Linked DNA regions of Homo sapiens: all the other regions are reported to be linked to region 1. Evidence: microRNA targets listed by miRTarBase, many of them from high-throughput screens and not tested one by one. Region 1 holds a microRNA gene; each other region holds the end of a gene's coding sequence.

Evidence for each region. The annotated mature microRNA hsa-miR-3913-5p reads UUUGGGACUGAUCUUGAUGUCU and lies in region 1 at 1,294-1,315, shown strand. An mRNA with a match to its seed (bases 2 to 7 or 8) in the 3' UTR can be bound and repressed. Matches are read on the target gene's strand: a 7mer-m8 pairs with bases 2 to 8, a 7mer-A1 pairs with bases 2 to 7 and ends in A, and an 8mer does both.
Region 2: the mRNA of MRRF is a reported target of hsa-miR-3913-5p. Seed matches in the 3' UTR shown: 7mer-A1 at 3,845-3,851.
Region 3: the mRNA of GLP2R is a reported target of hsa-miR-3913-5p. The part of its 3' UTR that is shown has no 7-base or 8-base seed match.
Region 4: miRTarBase lists ZNF451 as a target of hsa-miR-3913-5p. Seed matches in the 3' UTR shown: 7mer-A1 at 3,459-3,465.

Annotation. Positions count from the first base shown.
Region 1 is chr12:69,583,451-69,587,855 of GRCh38, forward strand. MIR3913-2 (microRNA 3913-2) reads left to right here and starts at 1,273; the gene lies at 1,273-1,372. It overlaps CCT2 (chaperonin containing TCP1 subunit 2), which reads left to right and starts at 2,009. Exons shown (of 16, transcript NM_006431.3): 1 at 2,009-2,074; 2 at 2,820-2,894; 3 at 3,303-3,368; 4 at 4,055-4,166. The coding sequence starts at 2,072. It overlaps MIR3913-1 (microRNA 3913-1), which reads right to left and starts at 1,373; the gene lies at 1,272-1,373. RefSeq lists an enhancer at 2,040-2,379.
Region 2 is chr9:122,322,211-122,326,210 of GRCh38, forward strand. It overlaps MRRF (mitochondrial ribosome recycling factor), which reads left to right. Exons shown (of 7, transcript NM_138777.5): 7 at 330-4,000. The coding sequence ends at 407. Among named protein-coding and RNA genes, the nearest start is that of PTGS1, 47 kb to the right of the region's middle.
Region 3 is chr17:9,889,337-9,893,336 of GRCh38, forward strand. It overlaps GLP2R (glucagon like peptide 2 receptor), which reads left to right. Exons shown (of 13, transcript NM_004246.3): 13 at 34-2,763. The coding sequence ends at 369. Among named protein-coding and RNA genes, the nearest start is that of RCVRN, 14 kb to the right of the region's middle.
Region 4 is chr6:57,168,255-57,172,254 of GRCh38, reverse strand. It overlaps ZNF451 (zinc finger protein 451), which reads right to left. Exons shown (of 15, transcript NM_001031623.3): 15 at 1,950-3,832. The coding sequence ends at 3,786. It overlaps ZNF451-AS1 (ZNF451 regulatory antisense RNA 1), which reads left to right and starts at 42. Exons shown (of 4, transcript NR_110742.1): 1 at 42-181; 2 at 1,157-1,250.

The sequences.
Region 1 (4,405 bases):
GGAGCAGTCATTGGTTTCCCCATCACACACAGTCTCAGGCTTGCCTACCAGAGGACATAATAAATATCTCCAGGTATGTAATTTTGCCCACAATAAAAACAACCTTTTTCAATATTGTGCAGGCATCTTAGTTTTTTATTGTGAATCTTCTCATTCCAGAATGCGATTTGGGATCTGCCTAGGAAAGTACATTTCCTGAAAGAAGACCAAATTTTCCTACAAAGAAGAGAAAACTCTTGGGAGATTTAAAATAACAATTTGTCCAGCCTGAACTCCCCTTTTCATGTTGGACCTGAGGAATACTGTAAACCAGGGTCAGCAAACTTTTTCTGTAAAGAATTAGATAATACATGTTTTAGGTTTTGTGGGCCCATTCAACCTGTCATGACTACTCAACTCTGCCACATAACTCTGCTATCGTATTGTGACAGAGTAAATATGTATGGGTATGCCCATGGATTCCAATGAAGCTTTATGGACACTGAAATATTAATTTCACAGGATTTTCATGTGTCAGGAAATTTTTGATTTCTTTCAACCACTTAAAAATGTAAAAACTATTCTTAGCTCTCAGGCCATACAAAAAACAACTGGCAGGCTGGGTTTGACTCCTCACAGCTTGCCAACCCCTGGTGGAAATCAACCCACTTAGAGGAAATCTGAAGGGTAGAAACAACTAAAAAATTGAAAATTCCTGTTAATGTTAGCAATGTCAAAAATCCAGGAGACCCCAGCTACTCAGGAGACCAAGGCAGGAAGATTGCTTGAGCCCAGGAGTTCCAGGCCAGCCTGGGCAACATAGAAGACCCCATCTCTAAAAAAAACAAAACAGAAAAAGAAAAATCCAGGAGCTTGTTTTGTTTTGTTTTTGTTTTGAGACAGAGTCTCGCTCTGTTGCCCAGGCTGGAGTGCAGCGGCGTGATCTCGGCTCACTGAAACCTCTGCCTCCCGGGTTCAAGCAATTATCCTGCCTCAGCCTCCTGAGTAGCTGGGATTACGGGCATGCACACCACGCCCGGCTAATTTTTGTATTTTCAGTAGAGACAGGGTTTCACCATGTTGGCCAGGCTGGTCTCCAACTCCTGACCTCAGGTGATCCGCCCACCTCGGCCTCCCAAAGTGCTGGGATTACAGGGGTGAGCCACCGCGCCCTGCCGAGGAGCTTAAGCGATCAGTTAGTCAAAGGGAGAAAAGAGGGTATCAGTAGATGACAGAAAAATTTTTTAGAGAACAAATTTTTAGACATCCGTCAACTTAGAGAAAGTAGAAAACTGTCTATAATAAACTGAAATATTTGGGACTGATCTTGATGTCTGCCAAGGTTTTGGCAGACATCAAGATCAGTCCCAAATATTTCAGTTTATTATAAACAAAGACTAATAAGTCGTCTCTACTATTGGAGGAAAAAAAAAAAAAAGACCGAAATGCAAAAATTCCTGAAAATGAGTAAATAGGGCAAAGATAAAATACTATAAATGTCTCTCTCAGTTCACAAGACCTTATCCTGGGCAGTCAACGTCCAGTTAGAAATAACGTCTGAAAATTCAGTAAGAGAAAAGGAAGTCTTCTTCTGTAATACTCAGTAAATAATGTTTAAAATTAACATAGCAATAATATTATCTGGGAATATGATAGTAAATAGCCCCTCCAAAAAACTGAAAAAGTTGAAAGCAGTTTTCCTGGAGACAGGAAGTGGTGAGGCAGATAAATTATGTTTTTCCTTATTGGTATATAACACTTTAAACTGTGTACATGTGTGACTTTAATAGAAGTGTTTAAAGATTAAATTTAAGAAAATAAAAAGTGTGAGCAAGAACTCCATTTCTATGGCAACCCGCGCGGCAGCCGCCTCTTTGTTCTGGAGCGGCGGCCACGCCCCCTCCAGTGTGAAAGGCTGCGTTTCCGGCCCGTGGGGCTCCAATCAAAATGGGACGCCTGCTGGCGGTAACGACAGGCCGGGGCCCCGCCCCCCGAAGTAGGGCGTGTGGCGTCACTTCCGGCTTCCTTCAGTCCGCTGGTCCCGAGCACGAGCTGTGAGGGGATTCACTTGTGTGCGGAACTCCTCGGAACCATGGTGAGCCTGACTCCCCTGCCTCTTGCCCTACCCCTGCTCCGCCGTGCTCTTGCCACCCCACTGCTTCCTCTGTCCTGCTAGGGTCGTAGGCTCCGTTTCTGTCTCCCCGGCCCTCCGCACATGGTGCGAGCCATGCGCGGGGCGTGCGGCCTGCGCCAGGCCAGCCGGTGGAGCTCACCACGAGGGGGAGGGGTGGACCGCAAAGCCAGCGTCTCCTTGTGCCTAGGTCTTTGCATAGTCCCGGCAGCCCAGGTCCGCGCCTCACCCGGAGCGAAGAAATTTCTAGTGTGGGACCCGCTCCGCCCTCCTTCTAGGGGCGGAGCCTGGAGCGACGGGGTCTGAGCCATCAGAGGGTGGAGGGGCCGCAGCCTTCCGAGGGTGGAAGATGGAGGCCGCGTTCCCTCGCCCGCCCGGCAGGCGTCACCTTGATGGCCTGCAACCCCTCCCTGCCTCATTCTTAGTTCAAGATCGTCTTTAGTCTCGCTGTACGTAACTGTCAATCTCGCTGGTGTATAATTTATACTCCCGGGGGCCTTGTAAATCCGAAAAGCCATGTCGCTCTCCTACAAGTCCCTCTCTCCCACTTAAATGCTTTCTCCGATGATGGAAGCTTCATTTGATTGAAAACATTGTTGTAAATGAGTTTTCTCTTAGATGTCCACTTGTAAGACTAGTGGAAGGCACCTCAGTGTATGTGTTAGAGTATTGGTACTTAAACGGAATGCCTCTTGGTTTTCCTTTTCAGGCGTCCCTTTCCCTTGCACCTGTTAACATCTTTAAGGCAGGAGCTGATGAAGAGAGAGCAGAGACAGCTCGTCTGGTAAGCCTTGTTCTAAGCATTGTTTTAAAGATAAAACTGGAGGCCAGGCGCGGTGGCTTACTCCTGTAATCCCAGTACTTTGGGAGGCCGAGGTAGGCGGATGAACTGAGGTCAGGAGTTCGAGACCAGCCTGGCCAACATGGTAAAACCCCGTTTCTACTAGAAATACAAAAATTAGCCGGGCGTGGTGATGGGCACCTGTAATCCCAGCTACTCGGGAGGCTGAGGCAGGAGGATCGCTTGAACCCAGGAGGCGGAGGTTGCAGTGAGCTGAGATCGCGCCATTGCACTCCAGCCTGGGCGACAGAGCGACACTCTGCCTCAAAAAAAAAAAAAAGTAAATAAAGATAAAACTGTACTTGAAGACTGTAAAGTTGATTCTGATAATCTCCTTGGTTTTTACTCCAGACTTCTTTTATTGGTGCCATCGCCATTGGAGACTTGGTAAAGAGCACCTTGGGACCCAAAGGCATGGTAAGAAAAATAGAAAAGTTTTATATTTTAATATTGTTTTAGAGCGCTTGGTGGAAATATAATAACAAGCGTATTAAAATGCTTTTTAATCTTTAAAACGTTTAATTATAAAAGACAAGTATGTTCTCCTTAGTAAAAATCAGAGTCCCCAGAATCACCATCCCCAATCCCATGCCCCTCCCCAATGACAAGTACTGTTATCATTTGCACGTACATCTTCTAATATTCTGTTTATGTAGAAGTATGTGTACTTCATTATGTATTTTATACTCATGTAACATACTGTTTTATAAAACAGATACTATTTATCAATACTTTTTTGTAGCTTGCTCTTTTAAATTCCTTTCAGTGTAAGTAGATAACACTGCCCCTTTAACTGTCAAATATTATCCTGTACCTTAATTATTTTATAATTTAATTATGGCTGTATTGATAGTTTCTTTCCATTGTTTTTGCAGTTACGGTGTTGAAACAAAAACTAGTGTCTACCTGTGCTTCTAGTGTTTCTAGGGGTAGATACATGGTTTGGTTACGTGGTGTATGTATTGAAAACATTTGATGAATGGATACCACAAAATAGCTATCCAGAGTGTTTATACACTAGCACTGTGTGAGAATACTGATTGATCCATGCATTCTTCAAGATGTGCTTATGTCTTAACTTGAACCAATTATGTTCCCTTTAGGACAAAATTCTTCTAAGCAGTGGACGAGATGCCTCTCTTATGGTAACCAATGATGGTGCCACTATTCTAAAAAACATTGGTGTTGACAATCCAGCAGCTAAAGTTTTAGTTGGTAAGTCTGAATATACTTTTTCACCAACCTAATAATACTGTTTGTTAACATTTTTGAAATAACTTTATAAATAGGCTGTGTTGACCAATCGTACTGTCAATTGATGTCCACTAGTTGTTAATTATCGTTGTTAAAATACAAGCTTCAGGAGTGCCCGTATGTTGGTGGTAAAACTGTTGCATTTCAGACCTCAGAGTTCCAAATAATTTGTTGAATGAGGAACCCTGGTAAGTTTAGAT
Region 2 (4,000 bases), not on the chromosome of region 1:
AAATTAGCCGGGCGCGGTGGCGGGCACCTGTAGTCCCAGCTACTCGGGAGGCTGAGGCAGGAGAATGGCGTGAACACAGGAGGCGGAGCTTGCAGTGAGCCGAGATTGCACCACTGCACTCCAGCCTGGGCGACAGAGCGAGACTTTGTCTCAAAAAAAAAAAAAGAATGTATATATAAAGTTCTTAGTACAGTGCCTGACTGGTACTTAATGTGAACTTTTGTCACTATTATTATTTCTCACATAACCTTTTCATGTTTCTGGAATATTCATCCCCCTACCCTTTTCCAGCCCCATTAATCAGGCTGTCTCATTTTGTGTTCTTGCAGATCAGCCAAATGGCCGATGACACAGTGGCAGAACTGGACAGGCATCTGGCAGTGAAGACCAAAGAACTCCTTGGATGAAAGTCCACTGGGGCCAGCAATACTCCAGAGCCCAGTTTCTGCTGGATCCCATGGGTGGCACATTGGGACTTCTCTCCCTCCCCCATCTACACAGAAGACTGTCACCATGCTGACAGAAGCCTGTCCTTGTAAGGCCCAGCCTTCCAGGGGAACACTCAGACATGTTCATTCTCTTCCTGCTTCTGCTCTGGGCCGGTGGGTGGCTCTCAGAAAATACTTGCTGCTGGCAAAAGGCCTGTACTCAGGCATTTGCTTTGACTTGATGTTGCCAAGGGACTGAGGCCATTGGCAGGCTTAGTACCACCTGCTCCTCATCTTAGGAGTCTCCTTTTCAAATAATTAGGCTCTGTTCCCATTTTAAAACTCTGATATTGGCCTTCACCTGTGACTGGACACTTTACTAGAGGCCCATTTTCACTAAACAATAAAATCTAAATAAATTGGAAGGAATAACAACCACAAAGGAAAGAATAGAGTTGGTCTGGATTGATGATCACTGAGGATCTGTATGTGAGGCACCCATAACAGTAGTTTTGCCTGTGAGTCGTCTTCACACATGCTGTTTTCTCTGCCTGGCTCTCTCTTCCCCTCCTTACCTGGCCAGTCCTGTTTATCATCAGGCCTTGTCTTGGATATCACGTCCTCTGGGAAGTCTTCTTTTCCCCTCTAACCTAGGACCCTCATTACCGGCTCTCATAGCACAGTCTACTGCTTTGTACGAATTCTAAGTATTCTTGTTGCACTTAATTAGCCTGTATATCCTCAGAACTTTGTGTAATGCCTGGAGCATAGTAGGCAGTCATATGTTGTATCGTGAATAAATTGCACATAGTAGCTACCCAGCAAATGCTGACTTCTTTTCTTTCTAGTCTTAACACTCCCTTTCTATCATTTTCCACTCTTGTACTTGTTCTCAACATTTACTTGGTAGTGACATACCTTTCCTGCAGGGCCTGCCCATTGTTGACAGACAAGTAGTTTATTGTGGCTTATCTTCGGATACTGGGTTATTAGGTTTTTTTCCCTCCAATTATTTTTTATTCATTCATTCATTCCTAATATAGCCATTATGAGTTAGGTATAGTTCTAGGCATTATTTATAATCTTGACAGTAAACTTAAGAGATGTGTATTATCTTCATTTACAAATAGGAAAACTAAGTCTTGACAGTATTAGGTAATTTGCCCAAAGTAACAAAGCAAAGCTGATCAGTGGTAGAAGGTTTTCATGATTCATTGTCAGCGTCATTTACATAGAGGTGAAGTTTCTTGTGCAGGGTTACACACCTAGCAAGTAGCAGAGCTGGCATTCAAATTGAGGCCTGATGTGCTAATGTAAAAGGAAAAAAACAAACTTTTTTTCCTTTTGTACTTTCACACTCAACATGGAACACTTCTGTGACAAGGTGTGTGAGTTTGTTTCCCCCACACACCAAGCAATTCTCCAGCAGACACCAACTGGGTATCCTATAATTCAATTCATTTCTGACATTACCTGGAAATAGTGTCAGATCCCACAGGTTGAGGGCTCCATCTCCCAAGACTGCCAACACTTTTGATGCCAGTCATGAGTCTGGGCCACCCATACTCCTGACTGACCAACTACAAACTAGAGTCCTTGATTTCCTTTGGTTCAGTTAATTTCCTAGGACAGCTCACACAACTCAGGGAAACACGTTCACTGGTTTATTATAAAAGATACAGCTGAACAGCCCAATGAAGGAGGTACACAGGGCAAGGTTGAGGGAGAGGGAGAGGGTGTGGAGCTTCCATGCCTTCTCTGGGCTCACACTCTCTCAGCACCTCACCAATCTGGAAGGAACCACTGTGTCCTGCTGCCTTCATTAGCATTTAGTGAGCACCAATTGTTTGTCAGGTGCTGAACTATGTACTGGCAATACAAAAATGGGAAAGATATGACCCCTGTTTTGGGGGGGTACATAGTGCACTGAACTAAATTGCTGTCTATAATAATCTATTGGGTGGAAAAGTAGGAAGTTCATTCCAGTTCTGCAAGGTGTCTGCTTTCAGAATGGAGCCCACTTTGGTGGTGGCAAGGCCTGGCTGAGTTCTTTCAAAGCAACATCCAACTTCTCTTTGCTCTTTGACTTCCTCCAGATTCTCTCCTGTGCTGGAGGTAATAAGGGTTGCACTTCCCTCTTTACTTACACTGGTGAAACATGCAGTGAGGATTCAAGGTCAAAATTGGGTCAAAGTTAAACTAACACAGTCTCCTGCCCCACTTACCTGTCCTCTAACCCCATCCACCAGCCCTAAGTGGTCATCACATGATCAGAAGTCAGCTGGGGGAAGAGCAGGGATAGATAGAGCAATTAAGGAGCCTCTTTTGGGGTAAGCCACATGACAGGGGCTTTGCAACAGTCTTTCATGAGTGGCCGAAATCCCCCACTCACTGCAAATGTGCTTCTCAAAGATGCAGGATTTTTTAATAAACAGAGGAAATGATAAATTATGTTGTAATTCCACTCCAAAGGCATTTGGTTCTTAACAGCCAAATCCTCTGTAGTCTTTAAATAAACAAAAACTTATTTGGTGAACAGACAGGGAGGAAAATGAAAGATTTTCTGTACTTGGGTTCCACATGTCAACAATTTCTCTCCTGTGTGTATGTTGGCCAAAGCTGTATCATGATAAATGAATAAAGGAAAACCTCGAGCCCAGGGCAGTCAGACAGCTCAGCAAATGGCTTTCAGATGATTACTCAATTTCAGTTGACATTTATCAAAGAGTTTCTCTGTGACTCTGTGTCAGGGCTGTAGTGGTGACAGGGACAAGAATGAGACTACCTGTTTGGATGTGCTGAGAATGAGTAATGCTGGAGCAATTCATTCTCCATCTCTTCTCTCCTACAGCCTCTCTCAAAAAGAAACACTGGGTATGGAAATTCTCACACTTGCCAGAAGAATTAACCACCTCTTCTATTCAGTTTAATGACTTTCAAAGTCCTATGAAATATTCAGGCCAGAGAGAATTTGAGAATTTTTTTCCTGTCTGGTGTGTGTGTGTGTGTGTGTGTGTGTGTGTGTGTGTGTGTGTGTGTGTGTGTGTTGGAAATTACAAAATAAGTTGGAATGCAGAAAGTTAAAAAAAAAATCTCACCAGGCCCTACTCCTTTAAAATTAGGTATATATCTTTCCAGACCTCCTTTCTCTGTGCATATATGTGTGTGTGTGTGTGTGTGTTCGTTTCATTTTGTTTTGCCTTTGAGACAGTGTCTCACTCTGTCGCCCATCATGCAGTGGCACAATCATAGCTCACTGCAGCCTTGAACTCTTTGGCTCATGCAATTCTCCCACCTCAGCCTCCTGAGTAGCTGGGACTGCAGCTATGCACCACCACACCTGGCTTTTTTTTTTTTGCTTTGTTTCCTAGGCTGGTCTCAAACACCTGGCCTCAAGCGGTCCTTCTGCCTCAGCCTCCCAAAGCGCTGGGATTACAAGTGTGAGCCACTCTGCCTGGCCATATATAATTTTTTTTTTTTTTTTTTTGCAATGGAGTCTTGCTCTGTCGCCCACGCTGGAGTGCATTGGCGCAATCTCGGCTCACTGCAACCTCTGCCTCCCTGGTTCAAGC
Region 3 (4,000 bases), not on the chromosome of region 1:
AGACAGTAACCTCTCACTTGTCTCACCCGGCAGGTGAAGGCTGAGCTGCGGAAATACTGGGTCCGCTTCTTGCTAGCCCGCCACTCAGGCTGCAGAGCCTGTGTCCTGGGGAAGGACTTCCGGTTCCTAGGAAAATGTCCCAAGAAGCTCTCGGAAGGAGATGGCGCTGAGAAGCTTCGGAAGCTGCAGCCCTCACTTAACAGTGGGCGGCTCCTACATCTAGCCATGCGAGGTCTTGGGGAGCTGGGCGCCCAGCCCCAACAGGACCATGCACGCTGGCCCCGGGGCAGCAGCCTGTCCGAGTGCAGTGAGGGGGATGTCACCATGGCCAACACCATGGAGGAGATTCTGGAAGAGAGTGAGATCTAGGGTGGAGTTCCACCACCCTGGCTCTGCTCCCAGGGACTCTTGAGGGGGCCCAGGAAGAGGAAGCAAAGCAGGACACACGTTGCTGGGCACGGAATCATTCTCGTTCCATTCACCATGCCACTTTGATATGAAAGCTATCACAAGGTTCTTCAAGCTCTGTATGAAAGAGGCTGTGTGTCATGCTCACAGCCTCTGCCTGCTCTTCTCATCCTAATAACCCCCACCAGTGTGTTTTCCACAATGCCCACCAGACCCTAGGGCCTGGCTCTAAATTCAAGCCAATGAAGTCCCACCATGAAGAGAGGTCTCCTGTTATAGAGAAGCCAGCCAATATCTCTTCCTTTATCCCTTGGGGTGCATGCTTTCCATCTGAGGTTGGGTTTAGGGTGCGTGAAAACCTCCTAGGAAGCTTTTAAAATGCAGAATCCTAGACTTGTGGCTAAGATTCTAAGACAGTGAGTCTGGGACCATGGCCAGGAATTGGAGCTGTTTAATAAGCATCCCAGGTAATTCTGCTGCAAGCCCACCCTTGGAGAACACTGGGCAGGGTGAGAGGGAGCTAGAAGCGCCCCCATGTGGCCATGGCAGGATGCTGCAAGAGACAGTCTGCTCTCCCAGGTCAGCTGGGGTGTGCCTGCCCTCCTTGGAGAGTATGTAACTCCACCCACCAGAGTGCCACTCCTCTCTGCTCTTCCTCTCCTATCAAGTCTTGCCTCTCTCTCTCTTTGCCTCAGTTCTCTGTCCCTGCACAGCAGGAGTTCTGCTTGATCCTCCCTTTGAGGATTGGCCCCAGTGCCTGGGGACCCTCTGAATGTCGTCTTTGGTCTGTTCCTCTCCTTTCTGGCTCTATCTACCTTTCTGAGTTTGGCTTCTACCAGCCTGATTTACACTACCATTCTCTTGGGGCAAGGAATGTCCCCACCATTTTTGGTTTGCCATTGATGCATTGATTGTCACACCTGTTGTCCCAGGAAGTTGACCTATAACTCTCCATGGCCAGAGTCCCTGCTGATCAGAATTCAATTTGCCCAGTGGGAATAAATACTGAAAGCAGGAGGGCCCAGGTAAAGCAATAGGAGTTTGGCTGGATCTGGACATGCCCAGGGTGGCTCTGAGAGATCCAAGACTTTGCATCCACCAGCCTGTGGGATCTTTCCTGCCTACTGTGACCCATGGAGGCTGAGGAGGGCCCAGGCAGTTGGGGTCAGGCTCAATGACTGAAAGTATAGGGCAAGAGGCTGTAGGAAGATCAAGGGATGGACATCCTTTGGAAACAGTGTGTTAATGCACAGGAGTGTCACTTTCATGGTATGTAAAATGCATGTGTACGTGGGTGGGGTATGTTGCTATGGGACTAAATACCACCTTGTCTTCGGGGGAGTCAGTTTGATACTCCTCAAGCAGGGCTGCCATATTTAGCAAACAAAAACAAGGTACTCAATTAAATTTGAATTTCAGACAAATAGTCTTCTTGTATAAGTATATCCCATGGGCATATTTAATCTGAGATTGGAATTCAATCATGCATCTTGTCTTTTACTGGCATCTCTGTTTTCAAGGATACTTTGCCACAGGGCTGGGACTAGGGTGAAATAATCAAGGCACTCATCTCTAAAAAGCTCAAAGTAAATGATCAAAATAAATCATATTTTAATGCAATATTCTAAAAAAACAAATTAACAAACTACAGCCCATGAGCCATTTATAGAAATGAAATTTGATTGGAGCCAGGGGCAGGATAAGGGTGAGGCAGGAGAGGCCAGCTCTTGCAAGTGCAGGCTCTGGTCCTGACTTTCAAATGTTGTCTATGAGGGACTTTTAATGTGAATTTTTATTTTTAGACAATTGCATTAAAATGTTATTTATATTGACTATGGGGACTTTTGGGGCCCCCTTAAATTTTGCACTTGAAATGGGATCCCCACTTGTGTCACCCCATAGTCCAGCCCTGGTTTTAGGATGGGGATGGAGGCAAAGGCATCAGGCAAGTAATGAAGCAAAGGTTTATTTTTTGGTGTCCAGATTATCCATAGCTCAGTCATGAAAATCTATGTCTTTCTATTTTTCTCCTTTCTGCAAATGTCCCTGCCTCGGCTCATCAGCCAATTAGCTCCTAGAAAGCTGGGGTCATCTCGTATTCCCAGCAAGTACCCAGCACAGTGCCGGTTCAGAGCAGGTGCTCCACACACATTCCTGGAATGAGACAGCACAGAAATGGCTCTCGGGAGCCTCGGATGCTGCTGGGAGTAAGTGATCCAGGACCTTACCGCTAAGAGGAGAAACTTTTTTTCAAAGCATTTATAAATACTCCCTCCACCCCTCACTCCACAAATGGGGTGATCAACACTTACTGCTTGCTCTTGTTCTGCTAATGATTAAAACAAGTTTATTTAATTTCATTTGCATTTTGTTGATTCTTTTACATTTGTCTCTCACTGGAGCTGAAGGTCTCTCCCACCCATGAAGAATGCGATGCACTATTCCTGGCCAGAAGTGAGGAAAAGGGCTGTGGCGTTTAGCCAGGGACCTGGGTGCTCCAATATCTTAAATTTGGTCTTAGGGACCAGAGGAGTGGGCAGAGGGGCCGGGACCAGAAGCAGAGGTCAGAGGTCAAAAGAATGGAAGGAGAGTGTCTCCCCTTTTATAGACCACCCCATTGGTCACTCAGCTTGCCTGTTGCTTTGAAGATCTAGTCTAGTGGTTCTCAATCCTCGCATTACAATCCCTTGGGAAGCTTTTTATTTATTTTTATTTATATTTATTTATTTGAGACCCAGTCTCACTCTGTTTCCCAGGCTGGAGTGCAGTTGCATGATCTCAACTCACTGCAACCTCCACCTCCCGGGTTCAAGCAATTCTCATGCTTTAGCCTCCCGAGGAGCTGGGTCTACAGGCGTGAGCCACCAGGCCCAGCTAATTTTTTTTGTATTTTTAGTAGAGACGGGGTTTCACCATGTTGGCCAGGCTGGTCTTGAACTCCTGACCTCAGGTGATTGCCTGCCTCGGCCTCCCAGAGTGCTGGGATTACAAGTGTGAGCCACCACGCCCAGCCCCCTGGGAAGCTTTTTTAAAAGACCAGTGACAGGGTCTGACCCCAGAGGTTCTGATTGAAATGGTCTTACTAGACCTGGGCATTGGGATTTTTATAAGTTCCTGAGTGATCTTTTTTAAATTGTGGCAAAATATATATAACATAAAATTAACCATTGTAGCCATCTTTTTTTCTTTTTGTTTTTTGAGACAGAGTCTTGCTCTGTCACCAGGCTGGAGTGCAGTGCTGTGATCTCGGCTCACCGCAACCTCCACCTCCCAGGTTCAGGCAATTCTTCTGCCTCTGCCTCCCGAGTAGCTGGGACTACAGGCGCCTGCCACCACTCCTGGCTAATTTTTGTATTTTTAGTAGAGATGGGGTTTCACCATATTGGTCAGGCTGGTCTCAAACTCCTGACCCCAGGTGATCCACGCGCCTTGGCCTCCCAAAGTGCTGGGATTACAGGCGTGAGCCACCGCGCCCGGCCAGCCATTATTAAGTGTATGGTTCAGTGGCATGAAGTACCTTCTTACTGTTGTGCAGCCGTCACCACCATCCATCTCCAGGACTCTTTCATCTTCCTGAACTGAAACTCTACAT
Region 4 (4,000 bases), not on the chromosome of region 1:
CCCCGCCTCTTCATGCAACCTAAAAGTAACCAACTCCCCCCACGCGAAGGTTCCTATCGGTCGACGGGCTGTGGGTGTATTGCTCAGTGACGGCTTCGTTTAGTTTCTCCCAGCACCCATAATTCAAAGCAAGAACAACGACATTATGGGGAGAAAACGTCCTTTTGTGAAACAGAAGGCAGTAAGTACAGCTCGTAGGCAGCCCACACTCACCTGACCTTCCTGTTACCACTTTATACTGAGATGAGAGTAATGAAAGCCCGGACAACACTGAAGCTATGAAGTAAAAAAGAAAAAGCTACTCCATCTTTCCCTGTCTAGCTAGATGTGGGAAGCAAAGTGAATTTACTTCATTTTTACCATTCTAATTTTCTTTTGTTTTTGAGATGGGGTCTAACTGTCGCCCACGTTGGAGTGTAGTGGCGCGATCACGACTTACTGCAGCCTCGACCTCCCGGGTTCAAGCGGTCCTCCCACCTCAGCCTCCCAAAGTGCTGGGATTACAGATGTGAACCACCACGCCTGGCTTAATGAAGGGGTTTTAAATTTTTGCTATTAAAATTATTCCTGTTGAGCGAGCCGAGATCTCGCCACTGCACTCCAGCCTGGGCGATAGAGCGAGACCTTGTCTCAAAAAAATAAATAAATAAATAAATATTCTGAGTGAAATAATTGGCATTAAAAAGTCCTCAACTTTTAAAAATCCTGTTAACAAAAAAGATGCAGTAGGCCTCTAGGTCAGGCACCAGCTGTCGGTAAAAGACGGAATAGAGCTGAGGATACAAAGATTAGTCTACTTAAAAAGTTAGGCTTTAGTCCCCTCTCCTGATAGCTCTATGCCTCTCATTGCAAGGATGACAATGTACAGGGCACAGAAAATGATAGATAATAATAGTTTAAAGCTGAGCCACCACCTTTAATCAGAGATCAAAGCCATTTAAATACTTGAACAGAGTTGAAGCCCTTAAGGCTGGATCCCAATTCCCTCTGAACTCATTTTAAATCCTAATTAACTCTTGGGGTAGGGGATTATTTGACCTTATTAAAAATAACTTTATCATGACACAAACGAAAACAAAACACATTTTGTGAGTGGTTTGAAAGTCTATCAAGTGACTTTAGAATCATCCTGAACTCTTTTTCTCTCTTATCCTAGATCCACACCATTAGTAAACCCCATCAATTTTGCCTTCAGAATATATCCAGATTCTTCCCAATTCTACCGCCACCATTCTGGTTCAAGCTACCTGGTGAGTTTGCACCTGGAATACTACAATACCTTCCTCTCTGGTCTCCCTGCTTCTACTCTTGCCTCTCATGTACATGTTATCTCAGTGCAGCAACTACAGCAATCCTAAATAAGGCAGATCATACCATTTATTCTCAGAAACCTTCACTGGCTCCTTACCTCAAAGTAAAAGCCCAGGTCATTAGAAAAACCTCAGTAAGTTCATTTCCTATTACTCTCCTAGCTCATCCTGTCAGCCATACTAGTCTTCTTGCTTTTCCTTGAATATACTAAGCTCCTGTCTGGACCTTAACCTCCTCCACCTGGAACTCTCTTCCCGATATGTATTTTCATCCTCATTCCCTCACCTTCTTCAGGTCTTTGCTCAAGTTTACCTATCAGTGAGATCTTTTCTGACAACCCTATTAAAAATAGCAAGCCTCCCCCCAACTCCCTGTCCCTGCACTATTTATTCCCTTCCCTTCTTTATTTTCCGTCGTTACACGTATCACCATCAGATATGCAGTTTTATTGCCTTGCTTACTAACATTGTACAATCCCCTCCTCTCCACCAATATGTGCTCCACAGAGGGGTAAGGGCTTTGTTTTGCTTACTGGTATATTCCAAGTGCTTAGAACAGTTGCTGGCACATGGTGGGTACTCAATATTTTGTGATTGAATGAATTAATGAGTGAATGATGTAATGAAAAGATAAGCATCTTTGTCAATGTTAGAAACATTTACTTCTGACGATAATCCATATAGCTTTCTCTGATGTTACACAGCGATTACATCTCCTTGTGTCTAAATTAAAGTCAAAGTATGAATTTTAAGATGATTTTTAATTATTTAACAAGTAGAAATACGATCAGTGACAATTATCAATTAAAACATTAAACAACCCAGTTACCTTTTCTTAACAGTCATGATGAAATATCCCTTTCCTGTCTTATCAGAAGCCTTAATTATTCTCTACCACACACACCACAAAAGCTTCTTAATAGAGCATCAGTGTCCATCACACCTTTGTGTAGAATCTCTGGCAACAAGGTGCTGTCTCCTCTTGCCCTGCCCCCACATCTGCTTAACTACTCTTCTTTCTGGAATGCCTCTTTTGCTCCCATTTTGTGAGCTCCTGCAGATGTGTTTAAGGTCCAGCTCAGTGACTACCTCCTAGAGCCTTGCTTGACCACTTAAACATACAAACTAAAAGCACAATGTGGTCATTTCGGAAAGATGATTGATAAATTCTCAAGCCACAATGTCTAGTTTTTAAAAAATGCAAGCAGGGAGGAACAGAAGTGACATATCAAGAAATTAAAAACACAAATTATAGATTGAAAAGACTATAGTAATAAAAAAATTCAATTTCACACTAAAATATTTAGTGTTACAGAGAAGGAACCAAATTCTAGCCTTTATATTTTGTCTTAAATATAAAGAAAAGCTTTATATTTATAGAAATGTTTTTAAGTTTGGTAAATAATTACTACTAAAAATTTTTAGAGATAAGACATTTCTGGTTAAATAACATGAAGCATATACACAAAGATAATATGACAAGCCCTTCTTAGTCTTCTACTTATGTCGTATTTTTTATTACTCACAATGGGGCCTCAATATTTAAGAATTAAATATGTAATACCAAATGAAGGAAACTGACAATTCAGTGAATAACTAAACTGAAAACACTTCACATGAAATAAAAATTTAAAGAGTTAAGGAAGATTATTCCTGAGTAGGCTTTCAACATTATTTCTTGAAGAATATTATGTTTACACCAATATATAAAAAAGGACTGTTATGAAAAATAATTTTATGCAAATATTCTGACACCATTCCCTTTAACCAGGAGACCATACAAGTCACATAAAAGTCTAAGCAGGTAAAAGGAATGGAAATTGTTTCATTTAAATTATTTCTTAAAAATTAAGGTGTATTTTTTATTTTAGCAATGTGCTGCTCTAATTAAAGCAATAATTTACATATGCATGGCACCCACAAAGAACATTGCTGATAAAATTTTAAATGTTTCCATGATCAGTTTCCATTACCCTCTTCTAATAAACATAAACAAAGATCTCAAAGGTATTATATAATAGTGCCACATGAGAAGTAGAATTTATGGAAAACTTGACCTATGTCACCTTTTTTATATTCATTTTCACTGCTAAAAAAATAAACTAGCATCATTTGTACAGTACAAATAAAATTAAAGAACTAATGCTATTTGGGAAACAACTGTCAAGAGCTTTCCTTTTTTTTAATCCTTTAAATCTAAATATATAAATTCAAAGTTAACTGGGAAACTGTTACACCTATATTAGAATACATAATTTATATTTGCATGAACATGTATTCTATTTCTTCTGTACATGTTTGCACATTAGCACAAAAATACAAAACAAAGATCAGATTTTGAACATATGAAAGCAAAAACATGTTTTCAAATACATTTGTAATAGTGGATTTCTGGTCTCCTTTAGAAAACAAACTCAAGAATTCGTTATCTCAGTCTCTTCAAGGCCACTTGATGTTGTGTGGTAATATCTTTAATTACATTTCCTCAAGACTTCTTCTAATAGCTTCTTCTAATTCCACATCTGCATTAAAAAACATAGAATTTTAACACTTAGGGCAGAAAACTCAACATGTGCTGTATTTATTTAAGTTTCATCGACTGTATTCTTTTCAAGAAGGAAAGTAAAATCAAAATGGAAAAACACAGGATAACTTGGCAGTTTCTCTACTAAAAAATTGAGTATTTTGAA